2 separate regions of the Homo sapiens genome follow, and region 2 is linked to region 1. The links come from fine-mapping of genetic effects on gene expression. Tissue or cell type: monocytes after LPS. Region 1 holds a variant in brackets; the other region holds the start of a gene. All regions are shown on one strand. Distances are from middle to middle.

Region 1 (2,687 bases):
CCAAAGTGCTGGGATTACAGGCGTGTGCCACCATACCTGGCTAATTTTGTATTTTTAGTAGAGATGGGGTTTTACCATGTTGGTCAGGCTGGTCTTGAACTCCTGACCTCAGGTGATCCCCTGGCCTCGGCCTCCCAAAGTGCTGGGATTACAGGCCATGGTGCCCGGCCTGGAGGATGAATTTCCTAGGAGCTTTCACCGTTGGATCTGAGGTTAAGATGCTCAAGGATCTTTAATACTTCCCTCATTTTGCTGTGTTTTTGCCTTCTGTTACTTTCTTCTGAAGGGCTTTGGGGACATTGAGGACAGGCCAAATTGTTGAAGAATTATTTAGAACCCACTGTCTTCTCGCTGTCCTTTTGATGTCCGGCTTCTCCAGTTATGAAATACATTTGGTATTGGTCATGATCTCTTACTGAGCTAATGTTATGGTCCATTGTTGGAGACAGAGTCAAATAAAATTCGTGTTGAACTTTGGTAACAAAACCAAATCTGTCCCCTTGCTTAACCAACATTGACTTACAGAGAGCATATACTTCCTAGAAAAATAGATGTTTCTCATAGCTTTCCGTTAAGAGAGCTTTTCCCTCAATATTCACTGGAAGCAGCTACTAAGAAGATTTATATAGGAACCAAAATAAACATAGGTGAGTATGTTTTTGTTGGCAGATACATGACTAAATTAGTCCCTGGGGTAGACATGAAATAGGGTTAAGACCTTTTTTTTTTTTTTTTTTTTTTTTGAGACCAATTCTCGCTCTGTCCCCCAGGCTGAAGTGCAGTGGCGCGATCTCGGCTCACTGCAAGCTCTGCCTCCCAGGTTCACGCCATTCTCTTGCCTCAGCTTCCGGAGTAGCTGGGACTACAGTAGGCGCCCGCCACCACGCCTGGCTAATTTTTTTGTATTTTTAGTAGAGACGGGGTTTCACCATGTTAGCCAGGATGGTCTCCATCTCCTGACCTTGTGATCCGCCCGCCTCGGCCTCCCAAAGTGCTGGGATTACAGGCGTGAGCCACCGTCCCCGGCCTAAGACGTTTTTAAGAGTTCTTTTTCTTAGAAAGATTGAAGATCTGGTATTGGACAAAGATGAAAACTTTGGAATTCTTTTAACAAAGAACATAATCTGTCTTCTACCATCCCCAATTTAGGGGGTAAAAAAAGGAAGTTCTTCTTTGGGCACTATGTTGTTGTATCTGACTT[C/T]ATATGTCTGTTGTTGAAATTGAGTTGGGAACTTCCCCTTTGTCAGCTGTGTGGTATCAGTGGGAAAATGCAGAAACATTATGACTTGCAATAAGTTTTTCTTATGGAAAATTTAGGGATAACTCAAAGCTGCCCTTTCTGAAATTTGATCTGTTATCAACTGTATAAATCTAAATGGAAAAATAGATTAACGACAGTCTTTGCCTGAGGGACCTCCTCAAATCAAGAACTACTGTTTGAAATGATCAAGTGTCTGCTAAGACTTGCATCTGAATGGGTGATGTCACCCTTTGGCCCAGAACAAATTTTTTCCAGGGTTGTCTAAATATAGGACACATACTTTGCCATCTTTGTTTGTTAGTGCAAATGTACGTTATACATCTATACTAGTTAAAATCACTTTATTTTAACAGAACCAAGTTCTACTCCAAGTTCAAGAAATTGATTGTTGTTTTCTTTGAAAACATGTTAATGACGTTTTAAAAATACGCTTATTCAAAAATCAAACAATAGGGCCAGGTGTGGTGGCTCATGCCTGTCATCCCAGTGCTTTGGGAAGCCAAGGTGGAGGATCGCTTGAGGCCAAGAATTCAAGATCAACCTGGGGAACATAGCAAGACCCTATCTCGATGAAATAAAAAATGAGCTAGACATGGTGGTGCATGCGTATAGTTCCAGCTACTTGGGAGGCTGAGATGGGAGAATTGCTTCAGCCCAGAGAGCTGTGATCGCACTACTGTACTCCAGCCTGGGCAACAGAATGAGACTCTGTCTAAAAATATACATATATATATATCTCTCTCTTATATGTATATATTTATATATATCACATATATAAATATCAAAAGATATCAAATATATAGATATATAAATATCAAATATATAGAGATATATAAATATCAAATACAGATATATAATATCAAATACATAGAGATATATAAATCAAATATATATATAAATAAAATATATATATATATCAAACAATAAGGTATATAAGGTAGAGTGAAAGCCCCTGGTCACCTTATTTCCCAGAGCTGTCACCACTGATAGTTTAATGAACTCACTTTTTAATATGTGTGTGTGTTTAACATCGCTGGGATCTTACTGTACCTGGGTGCATTTGTTACCATGTATGTTTCGCTGACTCTTATTGTTGTGTGCTGGAACTTTCTGGGGTGATAGTAATCCAGTTGGGCAGTCATCAACACATGGAGCACTTGCATGTGACAAGTGTGACTGAGCTGAATGTTTTTATTTTATTTGAATTAATTTAAATTTAAATAGCTCCATGTGACTAGTGGCTATCATACTGGACAGCTCAGATCATATTCAGTCTTTGAATTTTGTTTATAAGCTTTCTTGGTACTCAAAAATTTCTGTATTTTATTTCCTGTCTTTGGTAGAATATGTCTAGTTTTCATTCTTTTTTTCTTCTGTGGATTATCTGTACACTTTTTTTTTTTTTTTTTTTTTGAGACAAGGTCTC
Region 2 (2,687 bases), 66 kb after region 1:
GTCGCCAGGCTGAAGTGCAGTGGCACAATCTCGGCTCACTGCATCCTCCGCCTCCAGGGTTCAAGCGATTCTCCTGCCTCAGACTCCCGAGTAGCTGGGACTACAGGCACGGGCCATCACGCCCGGCTAATTCTTGTATTTTTAGTAGAGACGGGGTTTCACCATGTTGGCCAGGATGGTCTCGATCTCCTGACTTTGTGATCCGCCCGCCTCGGCCTCCCAAAGTGCTGGGACTACAGGCGTGAGCCACCGCGCCGGGCCGGACCTCTTAACCTACATCTAAACAATGCCTACCAAAGGAAGTATGGAGTAAAGAAAGGTATCTCAGTATTAAAAGAAATAAGTTGGCTGGCGAGGTGGCTCACGCCTGTAATCCCAGCACTTTGGGAAGCCCAGGCGGGCGGATCACTTGAGGTCAGTAGATCGAGACTAGCCTGACCAACGTGGTGACCCGTCTCTACTAAAAATACGAAAATTAGCCGGGCGTGGTGGCAGGCGCCTGTAGTCCCAGCTACTCGGGAGGCTGAGGCAGGAGAATCGCTTGAACCCGGCAGGCGGAGGTTGCAGTGAGCCGGAATCGCGCCACTGCACTCCAGCCTGGGCGACTGCTATGTCTCAAAAAAAAAAAAAAAAAAAAAAACACGTTCAAATAAGTTCAATGTGGCTGGGGCAGAGATGCTAGAGAAAGCGGTGAGAAACTAGGAAAGGTGGGTAAGGACCAGATAATGAAGACCTTTGCAAGCGTTCCAGTGTGAAGCAACTTTAACATCTAAAGCAGAGGTGTCGTGATTAGAAAGACGTTATAGATCTTTGTGGATCTGGGCAAAGGAAGAGTCCCCGAGCAGCAAAGACGCTCCTGGAGTCGTCCAGGTTAGAAATGACGGTGGCCTGCACTAGAGACGCCGCAGAAAGGACTGGAGAAAAATACATGTTAGTCGGAAAAGAAGGTAGAATCTCCCGACACAGTAGTGACCAGCTGGAAGTAAAGTTGAGAACGGTATTGGTGGTGACTCCCGGTTTCTGGATCCCGCCGGTAGCCGAGGGGCGACGGCCGACCCAAAGCTCACCTCCCCACTGCACGCCGCCCCTGGATCGAGTACCTTGGTGCTTTACTATTTAGCACACGGAAGTGTTGTTCTGTTGTCCGTGTCTCCTTGGAGACCGTGGAGAACAGAAGGGCCGGCGGGGGTTTTCGCTTTGTACTCCTGGTGCCCAGCCGGCGCTGCAATCCAGCAGAGGAGCCGGACTAGAAACGCGGAAGCTCTGGGTGCACGCGCCCGGCCCGGGACTGGGCGGCCCAACCGGGAGGGCGGCGGGTCCTGCGGCCACGCAACAGGCGTTGGGGAAGCAGCAGAGACCCTGCGTGCGCGCGGGCTTCGGCCTCCAGATTCCGCAGAGTCCCGGGCCCGATCCCCCCGGGGCTGGCCTCCTGCCCTACGTGGGCCCCGCGCGCCCACCTGGAACTCACGATGGCGAATCCGTGGTCACCTGAAGGCAACAGCACCGGCGCCCAGTGCGCCTGCGCCGCGCGTGCGCAGAGCCCTCGCCTCCCGGCCTCGCCTCGCAGACGCGACGGGCCGGGGAGGAAGCGCTCGGAGCAGTGCAGGTTTCGTTATCCTGTGTTAGGTCACTCCGGAGAGGGGAAAGCGGCCCACAGCGTCGCGCGACCCGGAAACGACACAACGAGGCCCAATCTTTTAGACTCGAGTTTAGGCCCCGGGGTGGAGTCTCCGGACCGGGTCCCCCCACCCCCGCTACAGGGGCAGTGCGCAGGCGCGAGGTATGTATCGCGAGACCATGCGGTTGCCCGGGTAACCAGACGCTCAGGACTTGGACCGTCCAGTTGTTCGGAGGCCAGCCTATAGCCAATGGTATCCCGAGGGCTCGCTCTCTCCGGGCGTTTGTGCTCCCCTCTCTCTTCTAACCCAGTTTCTACCTTTCAGTGCTTTGGAATCTTAGCCCTCTGTCTCTATTCGCTTTTCTGTATTTGCCTTGCCTCAGGGACGCACAACCCCAGCCCCTGTCCCAGTGAGCCCGTCGCCATGGAATCCCTGCAGACTCCCCAGCACCGCGAAAATCAAGATAAAAGGGAGAAGGAGTATGGGGTAAAACACATGCCTATGGGCAATAATGCAGGGAATCTTGAGCCCGAAAAGAGAAAGGCAGTAAGAGTTGCCTTGAGTTCAGCAACAGCTGCACAGAATATCCCGTCCAGTGTCCACTGTGGCTGCTCCAAGCAATGGAGACTCAGGCTACCATCGGAGTCGCTGCAAAGTCGGGGACAAGTGATGAAGCGGCCGAATAACATTTTAAAGCTCAGGAATCTGGATCTGTTGATCTACCCTTGGCCAGAACTTAGAAGACGGCAGGTTGCTTCTGACCTAATGAGCCTCCTCCTTCTCCCCGCTTTTTCCGGCCTTACTTGGGCCCCCTTCCTTTTCCTCTTTACGTATCTGCCTCCTTTTCTCAATCTCCTCACTGTTGGTTTTGTATCCTATTTTCTGGTATAGTTTCTGTGATTTCTTTCTTTTATTTATTATTATTATTGTTGTTGAGACAGAGTTTTGCCCTTGTTGCCCAGGCTGGAGTGCAATGGCGCGAACCTGGCTCACTCCAGCCAGCGCCTCACAGGTTCAGGTGATTCTCCTGCCTCAGCCTCCGGAGTAGCTGGGGTTACAGGCACGGGC

The links. PIP is the estimated chance that this variant, and not a neighbour inherited with it, causes the effect.
Region 2: RPP38 starts here. The variant in region 1 is fine-mapped to the expression of RPP38 in monocytes after LPS (Quach 2016, PIP 0.95). The same link has a PIP of 0.9 or more in monocytes.

What each region holds. Positions count from the first base shown.
Region 1 is chr10:15,162,239-15,164,925 of GRCh38, reverse strand. The region is part of intron 1 of NMT2 (N-myristoyltransferase 2); the gene reads left to right. Among named protein-coding and RNA genes, the nearest start is that of NMT2, 5.1 kb to the left of the region's middle. The variant C/T (reference allele first, on the strand shown) is at 1,202.
Region 2 is chr10:15,096,180-15,098,866 of GRCh38, reverse strand. RPP38 (ribonuclease P/MRP subunit p38) reads right to left here and starts at 1,512. Exons shown (of 3, transcript NM_183005.5): 1 at 1,101-1,512. RPP38-DT (RPP38 divergent transcript) reads left to right here and starts at 1,548. Exons shown (of 2, transcript NR_160789.1): 1 at 1,548-1,780; 2 at 2,002-2,687. RefSeq lists enhancers at 805-944, 1,005-1,094, 1,396-1,967 and a silencer at 1,235-1,594.